2 separate regions of the Homo sapiens genome follow, and region 2 is linked to region 1. Evidence: fine-mapped expression QTL. Tissue or cell type: B cells. Region 1 holds a variant in brackets; the other region holds the start of a gene. All regions are shown on one strand. Distances are from middle to middle.

Region 1 (8,108 bases):
CCACCACACCCGGCTAATTTTTTGTATTTTTTTTTAGTGGAGACTGGGTTTTGCCATGTTGGCCAGGCTGGTCTCAAACTCCTGACCTCAGGTGATCTGTCCCCTTGACCTCCCAAAGTGCTGGGATTACAGGTGTGAGCCATTGCTCCCGGCCCCATTTAGCTTTTTTAGTCTCCCAGAGGTATGGATGATTTTGGGACTTACTTCAATGGACTGACTTTGCAAAGATGTTTTATATTTTGTTTTAACTCTCTGTGCCCTAGACTTATCCTTTTGAATATGATTCAGTTAAATGAGTGTATATATAGTTTGAATAAAAAAATCTTGTTTTCCATCGTATTTTTTTTATAAGAAGGTAGGGCACAGATAAACATATTTTTAAAATCTCTTTGTTTTCTTCCTTTCCAGTAAGAGCTGTTTGTGACAATAAGAGCTCATGCTTCCATGATGCTTCCTTTTGTGCTTTGATGATGGTCTCGCTGATGGTGGATTTCATTTTTCCCTGCCAGAGATATTACTACTACCAATTATGCAAAGGCTACACTGCCTGGATTCTGGATTCATTTTGGCTACTCTCGTTTCTGTAAACATTTAAGCATAAGATCATTGCTAACGCTCCATGATAGATCTTTCAGCAGGTGGCATGGGTAGACCTACAGCCTAACTGGTAGCTGTGTTTGTTTGTATTATTGTATGTATCCTAGATAGGTAGCTGTAAGGATACATACAAGAAGCTGACTCTTCTTGCTTCTCTATTGACCTCTCTCTTGTCTTGACTTTCCCATTTTGCATGGGAGCTTCATATACTAGAAGATTCATCAAAGAACCTAAGACCCTTCTTTTTGCCAAAGCTAGGGCAGCAAACACCACCTCACAGTGGAATATTTCTTAGTCAATTCAGCAAATATTTATTTTAAGTCACTGTTTAGTTCCTGGGGCTCTAGTTCTGTGCATGTGTTCCCCTGGGCCCTGATAGCATGCTGAGGTGTTTAACACAATTATTAATCGGCTCTGGTCTGCAAGTCAGATGCAATGTTAATTAGCATTACTTCTTTGCCATTGCATCCATACTGGCAATTCAGCTCCATGCCCTTACGCTCCGTGTCCTACTTGTGCTTTCCTTTTCTCCCTTTTAAAAAATAAGCCCAAAACCTGAAAGTATTCAGATATGTTCTCAGCAACAATGCCATAACCTTTTACTATTTAATACCAGCCTGATTGAAAAGCAATTTAGAAGTATCAGTCTTTTTCTGTAGGAATTTCAGTGTTTCTCACTGGGAGTTCTATAGTTAATAAAAGTCAAGTATTAAGCATATAGACTCATTGCCTAGAAGTAGTTGCCTATGTTTCCTAGGTATTGTTTAACAGCCTCTTTTTCTTTTTTTCAACCAGGCCTTCAATGTTATTCTTTATCTGCCGTCACTCTGGCTACAGAGACACTGGGTGTTTTCTGTCTTAGCCCTTTCAAAAGATATTAATTCTTTTCTTCCTGGGGTTTGCCCTTTGTAATTTTTGTAAAAAGGCATCCTGCTAACCTTCTGTAATTATTACTTTTATTTCGTTTTATTTTTTCTGGGAACTATATTTCTGTATCTGTAAGTTTCACCTGGAGGAACAGGTATTTCAAAATTACTTTCTTTTCCTTCCAATAACATTTTATTGTTTGCAGAGATATTTTCATCAGTGATACAGTGAGCACTGCATGAAGTTAATATCATTTTAAATTTAAATGTTTTGCAAACTCTCTTATTTCACATGTCAGGAGAAAACCTTTTGGAGGGTATTCGTGACAAAGAATGCTTGAGGGCTTTGCATTATTAATCACTTCTTTGATCTTGATTTTAAAAATCTGATGAAAGAGTTAGATCTATTACTTCCCCCGGTATTTTCTATGCTGGTTAATAGCATGACCATTTAGCGAGTACCTAACCAGAAAGTTGATAGTCATCCTGGATAACTCCTTCAACCTCACTGCCTACATTCAAATAGACATTAAAGTTCATAGGGTCTTGCCCTCTAATCCATCAATATTGTCCTTTTAATTTCTTCTGCTATTTTCCAGTGTAGGCAATAAGTAATACTTTTTTTCCCTTCAAATTCTTTGTTGATCTCCTAATTGGAACTTCATCCCAGGTAGTCTGGCCTCACCCAAATCATTCTCCACACTATTACCAGATCAATCTGTCCACCACCAATCAGTTTCTGTTACATCTGTGGCTCCACATAGAATAAATTTCAAATCCTTCTTACGGCATGGGAGATTTCCCATGCAACTCCTGCATGTCATGTTGGACTCAGCTTTTGCTACTCTGGGCCTCATATCCTGTGCTCACATCCTTCTACTACAGGAAGATAGAACTAATTTTATTTTCCTGAACATGTCAGCAGCCTAAGATTTTTGGTTCTCTGAATTGAAGCTGCTTACTACGTCCACTGTGACTCCACAGACATCAATCTCAGCCATTATTTGGCATAATAAATGAGGGGTGTGTGAATTAATATTACTTTCATTTGTTTATTAGGATAGATACACATTTTATGTAATGGTTGCAGCCACAGTTATGTGCCTGGAGTGGAGAAGGTCAAATGAGCACAGAGCTGATGTTAATCTGGTGTGTAGCAGTTCATCTGTATCAGTTATTCATATTAACATGCTTCTAATCCAGTTCCTTCGAAGGCTGCTGAGCTATTCCAACCAATCTGACCCTCCCTAGGATCATCTGGATCTCTCTGTAACCCAGGAGCCAAAGAATGAGTGCATAGACTAGAAGGAGACTTCTGGGACCCAAAGAAGGAAAAATCACTCTGGGGTATAAATTACTGAAAACATTACCAGGCCCACAGTTAGTATCTTTAAAAAAACTTTTTTTACATTTATAGATAAAATTACATCTTTACTGTGTACAACATGATGTTTTAAAGTATTAGACATCGTGGAATGACTTAATACAGCTAATTAACATATACATCAGTTCGCATAGTTATCATTTTTGGGTGAGAACACTTTACATCCACTTTCTTAGTATTTTTCAAGAATGCAATAAATTATTGACTATAGTCACCATGCTGTACAGTAGATCACTTGAAATTATTCCTCCTGTCTAACTGAAATTTTGTATCCTTTGACAGACATTTCCTTCTCCTTCCCAATCCCCTCAACTCCTGGTAACCACCTTTCTCCTCTCTAAGTAGAAATAAACTTTTTTTTTAAGATTTCATATATGAGTACGATCATGCAGTATTTATCTTTCTGTGCCTGACTTATTTCATTTAGTGTAATGTCCTCCAGGTTCATCCACGTTGTGACAAGTGACAGGATTTCCTTCGTTTTTAAGGCTGAATAGTATTCTGTTGTATATATAGATAGCACATTTTCTTTATTCATCCATTCATGGACACTTAGGTTGTTTCCATATCTTGGCTATTATGACTAATGCTGCAGTTAACATGGGAGTGCAGATATCTCTTTGACATACTGATTTTGTTTAATTTTAATGTATACCCAGTAGTGGGATTGCTGAATCATATGTAGTCCTACTTGTAATTTTTTGAAGGAACTTCATACTGTTTTCCATAATAGCTATACTTATTTGCATTCCCACCAGCAGTGTGCAAGGGTTCCCATCTCTCCATATTCTTGCCAACACATCTTTTGTCTTTTTGATAATAGTCATTTTAAAAGGCATGAGGTGATCTCATTGTGGTTTTAATTTGTATTTTTCTCTTGATTAGAACTGTTCAGCATTTTTGCATAAATCCTTTGCTATTTGTATGTCTTCTTTTTAAGAAATGTCTATTCAGGTCCTTTGCTCATTTTTCAATTGGGTTGTTTCCTTGCTATTGAGATGTTTGAGTTATTTCTATATTTTGGATATTCACCCAGCATTTTAGGAACTCACATTAGCCAGTTTTATTAATCTTTTAATGGACAGCACTTAGGGTAGTGCTAACGTGGTAGGAGCTTAGTGATTGAGAGCTGTTATGTCAAAAACAGGCCCTCAAGAAGTCCTCTGCCTGCCGAGGAGTCTGTACATAGGCTACAATCCTTCACCACATGTGACGCAGAGAGTAGTCGCCTCCTGGTCCAGATTTCTCCTTCTTATTTCTTTCATCTTTTATGATTTAATCTCTCTTTTATCTTTTTATCTATTTAATCTTTTGCCATTATCTTATAATGCTTTCATTAGCACTGAGATGTGTTTCATGTGTCAGGGCCCCCACTTCTATTTGCTGGCAATTTTATTCTTTCCTAATGTGACTGCTTCAAGTTAAGTGCAGAATCTTTGCCCAGCAAATTGTTAAGTAAGCTTTATGATCTTCCATAATTTCCACAGAGCCCCTTCTGCCAATTGTATTCTCTATGTGGGACTGGTGTCACGATTTTCTAGGTACTGTAGCATACTATATGTCTCTATCTCAAGAACTCTTTCCTTTGGACCACTGCCCTGTGCCTGCCCACAGCGTATTCTCTTTCTGCTAGTGTTGTTACAGTAGGATGATATGGGTATTTTCAATTCTGTTTCTTTTATTGGAGTAATTTCTTATTTGGGGGTGGAAATGTGGCTGCCTTTATACTTAGACCATTTGAGGGCTGAAGCTTAAGGAGTTTCCTTCTAAATCCTTTCAAGCTCCAAATCCTGTGGGCAACATGTCCTCATATGCAAAATCTGCTATAGAGCTGTCACCAGAAATTTTGCTTTGTAGTTTCCCAACATAGTTCTCTTTCTCTAAATCAGGGTTTCTCAACTTCAGCTATAGCGACATTTTGGGCTAGATAATCCTTTCTTTGTGAGGGGTCTGTCCAGTGCATTTTAAGATATTTGGCAACATCCTTGGCCTCTACCCACTAAATGCCAGTAGAAACTGCATAGTTTTGACAAGTAAAAATGTCTGCAGGCATTTTTGCCAAATGTTTTCTCTTGGGGGCCAAATCACCCCCGCCCCCAATGAGAACTGACACTCTCAATAATAAACATTCGGACATAAATTGACAAGTTATAAAATATGTTGACAAGCAAAGCAAAAACATT[C/A]ATGATAAGGACAGCAAATGCTTATAGAGCACTTATGTGGGCCAGACACTGTTTTAAAAGCTCTTTCCATGTAAGTTTCCAAGCCCATAGAGTGACCGTACCATTTTACCATTATTATTTACACTGTATAGATGAGGAAACTAAGGCACAGAAAGGCCATATAGCTTGTCCAAAGTCATGCAGCTCATAAGTGTCAGATCAAGAATTTAAACTCCGGCACTGCGACCCTGGAGTCTGTGATTTGAACTCACTGTGTTTCTCTTTCAACAAAAATTCGTTGGAATAGGTATCTATATGGCATTGCATGCAATATCACGTCTGATAGTTACTAAATTAATGTTTGTTAAGTGAATAAATGAATGACTATACATCCAGGAAATTACTTATTATTTTACATCAGCATTGAATAGATTCTTTAGTTAATTTAAATGAAAAATGCACTTTTCTTTGGATATAACCGACTAAATATTAACATTAGAGTAAGGCAAGAGGGTCTTAGCATTTCTAAGCCTATGCACAAGAATCTCTTGGAGAGGGTTTGCCAAGGTGACCTTTAAAATCTCTTCTAATCAGAGCTTTTATTTATTTGCTAGGACAGTTTTACAATATGTCAGAATGAAGATTGGCCAAACTGAACAAAATATTATTTCCCTGATGAGATTAAGCAAAGTATCTGCCTTGCCCTGTAATAAGGGAAAACTGAATTTATCCTCCCCCTTAAACTAGGCATACACTCTGATGAGGTATTAAATATTATATGATAGTTTAACCAAGTTCAGGAATTATAAAAAATTAAGCATCTTTAAGTAACAGGAAACCACTTTAGCTGATCAATCTTCAGGCTTCCGTAGTTGGCCTTCTATAGTGAATGAGAGGGCTGGGGTCTCAAATTTGTTATAAGTGCATTACATCTGATTTATATCAAAGTGAGAAACTATTTTATGTAACACTACAGTATTACTCTATTGAATGTGAGTTTTAGTCAATTGGAAATATTTATATAGTACATATATATTTTTATATATACACATACATATGTACATATATGTATATGTATATATTCAATAAGAAACTCAGTATATTTGTTTTCCATTTTTCTGGCGTGCAAACAAAACTTTTTTTAGGAAGAATTTTCATTAAATTAAAAAATTTCCTTGACTTCATTACTAATTAAAACATTATAAAGGATTTTTCTAGGAGCTTTATTTTTTAGGTAATTTTCCCTACTGCAGAGATCACACATCAAATTCTGAGTGATCATCGTTTTGTGATTCATGTATTTTAGATAACATATAATATTGGACATTTCTTAGTGTTTTTCATTATTTCTATGAGGAACAGTAACACTTAATTCACGCAAATTTGAGAAAAGAAACACGACAGTGTAAAAAAGTTAAATGGTCTATTTTTTTGCAAAATTGGTTTTTATTCCCTTCATTTACATATATAGCTCATTGTGAGCAATAAGGGAAAGATAAACTATAATGTCTTAGAGAATGTTGTACGTCTTTAAATAAATAGATGAGAACTATTTATTATTAGAATGGTCGTAGTTTGAAGAGAAAATGTTGCAGATGTAGTTGTTCAAAACTTCATGTTGATTTCATGTTTAAGTACAGAGAATTTTATACCCTGTTGAAGTTTGAAGAACTAACCAGAATCTGACCCCGAAAGTCCTGAGGACTAAAGGCTATGACTCATGCTAAACCCATGCAAATGTCCATATGTGAATTCATTTGCCCATCTTTATGCCTTTCAAAGTCAGCAAGGTAAAAGTCTTCAAGTCAGGCTGACTTATTCTTCTTAGCTTAAAACATAGGTCACTTCATACTTTATTACTGAGGTTTCCAACAAATAGTTCTTGGGGACTTTTTCTGTTCATCATTCAAGAGGAACCTTTATGTGTGTCTGAAGTTCGCTGAGATGCCTGGTGAGTGAGAAGTACAGTTCGGATTTCCCATTTCCCCCTTTTTCTTCTTTTCAGTACTTGATTTTCACTCTTCTTTCCTCCTCACAAATTTTTGAAATACTTCGTTTTCTGAAAAACCCTACACTATTACCTCTATAGAAGTTTCCAGAGTTTTCAAGGAATAAAAACTATTGACTAGTACAGTTATAGCGAAACTTAAAGAGACTCAGTGATTCATACTTCTTCATATTCTTTTATGATTTCTGTGAGTACTTACCACAGAGTAAGTAATCTATAATTTACTTCTCACACAATGGGAGTGTTAGGGTCATTCAGGGATTCTTTTTCACAAACTTGGAATTTTAGAAAACTACAGAAAACAAAACTAAGTGAAACAGAATTCCTCAGAAAATAGGAAGTGACGATCTTAAGACTGTTTGGAATTGTTCTCCCAATTAGTGACCAGAATCTGAGTTCCACCATTTTGAGCCCCCAAGTTGCCAGAAACAAGTTTAACGACTGAATTACTGAAGGCTTCTTACGTTTTATGAAACTGTCTTCAGCAAACACTGTAATTGGTGATTGTAGGCCCTGCGAAACACTAAGCCTTCATTAGTGTATAAATACCATTTTGATGTAGTTTATTTGAAAGTTAATGATGATGGCTGGCCCAGAACACACTTTTCTATATACCTAGATTAAAAAAATATATATGCTGACATGGGGAGAAAATTAATTAATCCTGGTTCTAAAAGAGTGCCTTTTCCTTTAAAATGGTTATATCATCAGTTTATTCTTCCACAAAGATCTGGCCCCTGTTTATTGTTCCCCCTTATGAGATTAATAATACTATAAAATACATATTTAATATATTTTAAAGGAACATTTTATAATACTTAAAGTATAGCTATTGTTTTATGTAGTATCTACTTTCTGAAAGTTGGAAATTATTGTGAGTTCTCTACATAGTAGCTAAATGGCGCTCATGCCAGCTGGCTTCTAAGTTGGCATAGATCCTACCTTAGATTTCATGGGTATGATGATAAGCTTTGTTACAATGGAGAGGAATTGGGATTTAGCCTTGCTACACATTAAGAAAGAATGAAAGTAGAATGCCTATATGTTTTACTCAGTTGTTAAATCCAAAAAGGATAAGATCTGAGAGGTGC
Region 2 (8,108 bases), 180 kb before region 1:
GGCTGGGGTGGCTGAGTGTGTGGCTCAGACTGAAGGAACAGCAGCTACCCAAGGTTAGCTCTTCTCCTGGTGAAGCGTGGAAAGAACAGACGGGTGAGTGGGCAGACAGACGCCTTTTGAGACCTCTTCAGAGAAGGGGTACACTGTCAGGTGCACACACATGCGTTAGTACAGCAAGTCATATGCTTGCAATATGATTTTCAATACCAGTAGGGAGGGGAGAAAAACTGCCCCCTGTAGGGGAGGTGCTACAACATCACATGGTGGAAGGTGATGTTAATTTTTTTTTTTTTTTTTTTTTGAGACAGAGTCTCGCTATGCCGTCAGGCTGGAGTGCAGTGGTGCTATCTTGGCTCACTGCAAGCTCCGCCTCCTGGGTTCACGCCATTCTCCCACCTCAGCCTCCCGAGTAGCTGGGACTACAGGTACCCGACACCACGCCCGGCTAATATTTTGTATTTTTAGTAGAGACGGGGTTTCACCGTGTTATCCAGGGTGGTCTAGATCTCCTGATCTCGTGATCCACCCGCCTTGGCCTCCCAAAGAGCTGGGATTACAGGCGTGAGCCACCACACCTGGCCGATGTTAATTAATTTTGTAGGGAGGTTGTGAAAAATTATCAGCAATAATTCAATCTGTCTCAGGGGTAAAGTAGCTAGACTTGACTTTTTGAGATGATTCACTTGGGAAGTTGTGTGGAAAGCAGATTCGAGAGAGGTGATGCAGTAGTCAGAGGGACCAGTGAGAAGGGCCAGGTGAGACTTAGTGAGAACCTAGGCTGAGTAACAGTGAGCTGGGGGGAAATAGAGTTGACTGAAGAAAATTATATGATATAAAACCATCAGGACTAAAGACGTAGGGTCATTTATGGCTGGTTTTCAGAAATCTCCATTTAATATACCCAACTTAAAACACTGTCCTAGCTTCCCTTGCAGCTGGGAGGTGATTATATGGTAAGCTCTGCCTATTAGAACATAAACAAAATTCACTGGGTCAATTACCAGGATTTTTTTTTTTTTTTTTGAGACAGGGTCTCACTCTTTCGACCAGAGTGGAGTGCAGTGGCACGATCCTGGCTCACCACAACCTCCGCGTCCCAGGCTCAAGCGATTCTCCTGCCTCAGCCTCCCGATAGCTGGGATTATAGGCACGCACCACCATGCCCAGCTAATTTTTGTATTTTTAGTAAAGATGGGGTTTCACCATATTGGCCAGGCTGGTCTTGAATTCCTGACCTCAAATGATCCACCTGCATCGGACGCCCAAAGTGCTGGGATTACAGTTATGAGCCACCGCCCCCGGCCACCAGGAAAAGTTTTTAAAGGGGCATGTGCCCCTTTGCAGTTGTTATTACCTTCTTCCTGCCTTACACGTAGCTGGATGGCTAGAGTTCCACCAACCATGTTATGGACACGAGGCAATCATCCCAAAGGGGACTGAGCTGAGAGAAGGAGCCTAAGATTTTGACGACCTCATGAAGATACCATACCAGCCCTCAGCTGCCTCTCTTTAGAATACCAGGTAGGTGAGAAAAAATAAATGACTTTTTTAAAGTGACTGTTTTTTGAGTTTCTGTTTTTAGCAGTCAAATGAAGCTCCTGACACCATACATGACCTTAGCAACATGAAGCAACATTATTCATTCATGCAGATAATTATTATTCTGAATCAATGACCAAAATTAGAAACATGAAAACCTTAAGGTGATCTAGCTCAACTGTAATCCACTGCTAGTGTATATAATTTGTGGAGACTTTTTTTTTTTTTTTGGCTTTCCTTCTTCCTTGTCTTCCCAACACAAGTCTAATTTTTCCTCTCAGCCATCTCTCTGATTTCTCATATCTATTTGGTGTTAACTGATCAGAGGGAGTTAGCAGAGAAGGGGGCTGGCTGTTTCATTTTAGAATACGACTCTTGAAGAACCCGTGATGGAGGAATAAACAGAAGTCCTGGTTCCTATTTCTAGACAAGAGGCTGCCCAATGTAATATGTAATATCAGTAATAGTAAGGTTGCATTTCTGTAGGGTGGCTCGATCAAGCGCTTCTTGTATACCATATCATTAGCTGCCCGAGGGCCAGTAAGGTCGGATGGTTTGTTCAAGGACAAGAACTAACAAGTAACAGAGATAGGACTTATCTTTTTCTGACCTTCACTTTCCCTTTCTGTGACAAAACTGGTCTTAGGAACTGTGTTGAGCAGAGCCTTCTGTGGGCGTGAGAGCGGCTTGGAGGTGTCAAAGAAAAATTGCATCCGATATAGTTAAACAGACAAGGGGGAATTATTCAAGGCTATTGCAATAGGGAAGAGAGAGAGGGAGGGAGAGGGGAACTAGTAGAAGACTAGTGGAGGAGATTAGGATGGGAAGTTGGTCAGTGTAATGAGGCCATTTGTGTTTCCTAATTGGAACTTATTAAAGTTAGGCTCCTCCTCTCCACAAACACTAGGAGATAGGGACCCTTTTTTCCTTGATGATTACATTTCAAAGGGATGCCTCACAGATCCCTGAGAAAGATCCCCAGGCTGTAAAACCCAGCAAGAGGCGGAGAGATTTACATGTCAAAGGGTCAGAGGAAACATTCACCAATGGAAGTTGGCTAAAGTAAATGCTCTGAGAAAAGGAAGGTCTGGGGCCTACAGTTAGGAAGAAACCTGTCTAAAGTTTAGTTAAGCTGAGGGGAATGTTAAGGCCATTTGGTCACCGTAAGCAGTACCACATTTCCTTGCCTCTCCCGGGAGCCAGGTCTCAGTGTCCCCAATAGGGGACACGCACTGACCGGCGGGTGAAGGGACTGATTTTGATTATCATCCTACCAGATAGAGATTATTCCCTCTGCACCCGGGTTAACTGAAACCCGGTGGGGGTAGATCCTTGCCATTTTCCGGCCCTGTACCCCACTGGAAATAACATGCGGTGGTCAAGGGCATCCACCTCTTTAGGCAAAAGCATGTTTTCAGCCCAGAGACGATTCCACCCAACTTTACAAGAGGATAGCCCAAAGATAGAAGCCAGGGACTCAGACTTCCTCCTTCCAGAAATAACCATCATAAAAAAGCCGACCCAGTAAACGCCTGGCAGCCTGCGGCATAGAAGAAAATGGAAATCTCCTTGGCTGGCATTTCAGCTTGCCTGAGGGGGCTTGCTTTGCTCCGAGGGGAGGTGACTGTGCTGACCTTAAAATCCAGGTTTCAGGAAGCAGGAGATGAAGGTATTTTATTTTCGCCTAAAGGCTTTGATATTTTTCAAATAAAAATTTAAAAGATCCAGTACCTTCTCCCGAAGCTTCTTCATAGAGTAGTGGATTTTTAGAAAACACAAAGGCCTAGGGGTGGGGCGAGAGTGGGGGGTGGGGATGGGTAGCCCCATAAGAGCAGTGCCCTGACGCCTCTTTTCGCCCTTTTCAGACCATTTGGATTTTCTTAAGCTGCCCCTTTCCCCAACCCCCGTTTTTGCCATTTGCCTCTCCTCCCATTCTCCAAAGTGCAAATAACTGGTTATCCCTCAGGTCCTGCTACCCCATCTTTCCTGATCCCCGATCCCTCCAAATACGAAGCACCTCGCATTTGGGTCAGCAGCTGTTTCCCCTGCCTGGTGACAAGGCCGGTGTGCAGAGGGCAGAGGAGGGAGCTTCTTCCGCCACACGGTGGCGCGCGCGAGCCTCCCAAAGACCGGGCGGCCACAGCTCCTCACCTTCTCCCCATTCCAGCCCCACCCGCCCGGGCGCAGAAAGAGCCGCGCCCCCAGCCCTCCCGGGCAGGACAGCCGGGAGCGCACCTCGAGGGCCCGGGCAGCGGTCGAGTGGCAGCTGCGTCCAGCCCATGCGGGAGCTGCTGCGGGTTACGGGTGGCCCCAGCTCCAGGCTCCTCCTCCAGCCGGTCCCCCACCCTCCACCCCTTCTCGACTCCGCTCTGCAAATCGAAGGCTTTCCGGAGCAGCCTAGGAGCGGCCGCGGGCGCAGCGAAGGCGGCAGGAGGAGCGCAGCAGCCTTCGGGCAGCCGCGGCGGCGTCGCTAGAGCAGCCGGGGAGGCGCCGCGGTGCCCGGCGCGCCCTCCAAGCTAGGAGAGGGGAGAAGCCGGGGGCTGCAGCTGGGCAAGGGGGAGGAAAGTGCGTGTGCGTGCACGCCTGTGTGCAGGGCAGAGAGTGCGGGGGGCGACAGTCTCGGCTTAGGGCGGAGGAGAGGGCAGGGGAACGGCGGTGCAGCTCCCCCGCTGTCCCCGAGGATTTCCCGCGGCAGCCCCGGGCTCCCCAGTGCCCCTCACCATGGACTTGCGCGGAGTTGGGACGGGCCTCGGCAGCAGCAAGCGGCTGGCTGCCGGGCCCTGGGGGAGCGCGGGCGCGCGCGCGGGGATGGCGAGGTAGGATGGCCACCCAGCGCGACCCCCGCCGCCCCAACCCAGCGGCCCCTGGGCGGTGCCGCTGACTCGCCGGAGCGCACAGGGGTGTGGGCGGAGGCGGCCTCGCCGCGCCCGCGCCTTCGGGAGTCGCCTCGCCTCTTCCACCCACTTGCACCTGCCACCCCGCGGATACCATGTCGAAGGCGGCCGGAGGCGCGGCGGCGGCTGCGGCGGCGGCGGAAAGTTGTTCCCCAGCCCCGGCCGGCTCGTCCGCGGCCCCGCCCGCGCCGGTGGAGGACCTGTCCAAAGTGTCGGACGAGGAGCTGCTGCAGTGGAGCAAGGAGGAGCTGATCCGCAGCCTGCGGCGCGCCGAGGCGGAGAAGGTGAGCGCGATGCTGGACCACAGCAACCTCATCCGCGAGGTGAACCGCCGCCTGCAGCTGCACCTCGGCGAGATCCGCGGCCTCAAGGTGAGCGCGGGCCAGGTGGGGAGGCGCGGCGCGGCTGGGAGCGGGGTGCCCCGAGGAGGAGGCGGGGCCAGGCAAACTTTCCCTCCCTCCCTCAACAGGTGACCCTCCCCTTCTCCCGGTCGGCACCCCCTACCCCCAGTCCCCAGCCCCTGTGTAACTTTTCCAAACTTCGGAGGCGTCTGCTCCCCTCCTCTCCCCAACACGGGGCGCTCCACTGTCTGGCTGTTCGGGGAGGCGCTGAGGACGCTGGAAAGCAGGGAGGGAGGTGAAGGGCACGCGAACCTTTCATTTCTTAGGGAGGCTGGAAAATCTGTGCCTGGGGAGCCGGGTTTCAGTCAGTTAGGCGGAAAGGCCAGTGAGGGGGTGAATCCAGGGGATCTTCGCCTTGGAGGGTCGGGAATGCGGCTGCTCTGGGCCAGCAGCTCTTGGGCGGGCAGAGGGCGAGGAAAGGGCGCCACTGCCAGGGAGAGCGGCTGGCGGGGCGCCCGGGAGAAGCAGCGGGCGCCACCCTCAGAGCAGTCTTGTGTCACCGGGTACATAGGAGTTCAAGCTCTGCCTTCACGTCTTCTCCCAATTCCTGTGCTTTCCCTCTCCCGGAGTTTGGAAGGCATCCCCTGGAGTTGCCTTACTCCCCTTCCCACTTAACCCCAGGTTGACTGGGGGAAAGAGGAGGAGCAAAGAGACTCAGTATGGAAGGAGCAGCATTTTGACAGAGTACCCCAAGTGTTGGTCAGTGATGGTTTCTTTCTGAGCCAGCCCCCCTGCCACCCTCTTCTAGGAAAAGAAGGGAAACGTACCCCAAGCCCACTAACTTTCTTTTCTCCTTGGAGAGCGCCGGGTCTGCGAGGAGTGTGCCTGCCCAGCTGCAGTACACTAGTGGCCGGGAACCGCCCTGCTGGCGAGCACCACAAACTTCCTCTCCTTCCAGCTAGCGCTGGTGCCTCCTGGTATTCCTTCCTCTCATTGTTCTGCTTTGTTTGTAGGAAGCCAGACACAAACGAAATCACTGCAGGGACTTCAGGGAGCAAATTCCCGAAGGCACAAGCTGTTCTTTTCCCCTTTCCACTCCTATCCCCACATATCAGACAGTAGATGCTGTTCCGGAATTGCCTCAGTGCTCCAGCTCTGGGATTCTGGGGCAAGAAAGAGTGGGAAGAGTGGAATGCTCAAGGCTCACCTATGTGCTGGGCCCAGTTCAGGTGGAGATGGCCGTCTCCCGAGGCCGAAAGTCATTGTCATATAGTCCCTAGAGTGGGTGCAGGTAGGAAGATTCCTCCAGTCAGAAAAATGCCAAGGCTTACTCTCTCCTGTGGTTGAATTCATTACTAACAGAGTGTTTATTAAGTGCCAGTCTCTTTGGGGAATAGAGGCAGGCTAGTGTAGTAGGAAGATGATCTCAGAGGTGGGTTTGAATTCTAGAAACCTCATTTGCCAGGAGGGTGAGCTTGGGTAATTACTTTCTCAGATCCTCCTTTTATTCACCAATACAATGCAATGATAATAACTTTCTGAGGGTGTTATGGCAATAAGTTATGATTATGTAGGGGAAGGTTTAATACTTGACTATAAAATGGTAGTTACTGTCATCAGGAAAGGACTTACAAATCTATGGCTGTGTGTCCCCAAGATTTTGGTTTCTTAGGCAGAGCTGGACAAGGGGGCATTAGTTTGTCATCCTCTAATTTGAGTTTCTTCCATGGTCTGAACAATAGTGTGATTTAGAAGAGTTGGAAGAGTTATTATTAAATGTTTTAATAGTATGGAGCATCAAAATAATAGCTCAGAAACACTTGAAAGTTCCTTTAGGTTATGTGGATTGACTGTGTGTGATGTCTGTGTGTGGGTAGGGGAGGGGAATGGTAGAGTGGGTTGGTAGAGTGCCTGGGCTTCATTCCAGTAGCTTCATGTAGAGAAGTAGCTATTAGGTCAGCTAAAGGCCCGTACACCCAAGTAAGAAAGTCTCCTTGTGATCTAGATTCATGACCTGGCATTAAAAGACTTGCCAGTCTACTTCCTTATCAAGTTCAGAAATGATGGGGGCAGGTTGCTTTCTGATGCAGCTTCTACTCTTCTCATGTCATCCCTGGGCTGCTGCAAGGAGCGGACTCCCAGGCTTCTGGCCCACCCTGGGTGTGCTGTGGTTTTACTCTTTGGAGAGGCCAGCCTTCTCCCTTCTCTTTTTTATTTTGGCTCAGAGCTTCCTTGGACACCATAGTAATCCATAAATGTGGTTGATTGAATAAATGATGGGTACATATATTTATTTTGGCTTAACTGGAAGAAAAGAAGTATTTTTTTTTGTTAAGGGCGTGGGGGAGCGTCTGAGGGCTTGGCATTCTCAGTTGAGAACTATAAATGTAGGGGAATTAAGACCATAATACATTTTCTTTTTTATGCCTCTTTCTATGAGCTGACTTTGAAATTGCATCTAAATATTTGTAAGGCTACCAGGTGTTATTGTAGCTGTGGACACAGGAGATGGCAGCATCAGTTCTTTACTTTTCAGGGGCCTGTGGCCGGGTCCTAGCACTGATTGACTTGTTTGTGTTTAGATATTTGGGAGGCAGGGCAGTGCAGGGGCCCTGAGAAGTGGAAAGATAAAGAATTTGGATTCTGATAATTTGGGCAGCTTTGGCCAATTGTTAAACTCTCTGTCTCTCGGTTTTCTCATCTGCTCATGGGGATTTTAATTCCACATGAGGTTTTATGAGGATGAAATATACCATAGATGAAGAAACCCCAGTGAAGTTAGATAGTTTTCTCAAGGTCACACAGACATAAAGTGTTCAAAATCGGCCTGCTTTCCTTTTCTTTTGGCTAGTTGACATTCTTTGCTTAGAATGTGTGGTCCTGGAAGGGGTGGATGAGGGAGATTCTAGTTAGGGTTATGTTGTAAGGAACTGGATTCCTGAGAACCATGTCTTTGGACTGCTGAGCATATACCAACACTTCAGGCTGCTCTGACCCAGTATCCCAGTTGGGGGCTGATTCGGGATGAATCTCTGTAGATTTGTTTTCTTCATTGCATTAATTTCCCTCCTTGGTTCCTAACCCAACCACCGACCCGCCCACCACCCTGCTCTGCAGTGAAGCAAAATAACAAATTAAAACAATTATTTAACTGTAGATACAGTACTTGATAGTCTTCAGGCATAAGATTGAAATTTTGGTTGGTGTGCTACGAAGTGGACTTAACCTTTTAAAAGTCCACTTAGACACTTGGATAATTTCTGGTGGCCGGTGGCAATGTTAAAAGGACACCTAGTGTTTTGCAAAAGAAAGCCCAAGTCTTAGTGAGGCAGAT

Direction of the effects. Positions count from the first base shown, and alleles are read on the strand shown. Sizes are in standard deviations (SD) of each study's normalised expression.
In carriers of allele C in region 1, the expression in B cells of the gene that starts at base 3,894 in region 2 tends to be lower than with A alone (moderate effect, 0.68 SD a copy in CEDAR).

Evidence for each region. PIP is the estimated chance that this variant, and not a neighbour inherited with it, causes the effect.
Region 2: CCDC85A starts here. The variant in region 1 is fine-mapped to the expression of CCDC85A in B cells (CEDAR, PIP 0.95).

The regions. Positions count from the first base shown.
Region 1 is chr2:56,362,769-56,370,876 of GRCh38, forward strand. All of the region lies in intron 3 of CCDC85A (coiled-coil domain containing 85A), which reads left to right. Among named protein-coding and RNA genes, the nearest start is that of CCDC85A, 180 kb to the left of the region's middle. The variant C/A (reference allele first, on the strand shown) is at 5,031.
Region 2 is chr2:56,180,097-56,188,204 of GRCh38, forward strand. It overlaps CCDC85A (coiled-coil domain containing 85A), which reads left to right and starts at 3,894. Exons shown (of 6, transcript NM_001080433.2): 1 at 3,894-4,804. The coding sequence starts at 4,529. LOC100129434 (a long non-coding RNA gene) reads right to left here and starts at 5,674. Exons shown (of 3, transcript NR_125368.1): 1 at 5,602-5,674. RefSeq lists a silencer at 3,564-3,893.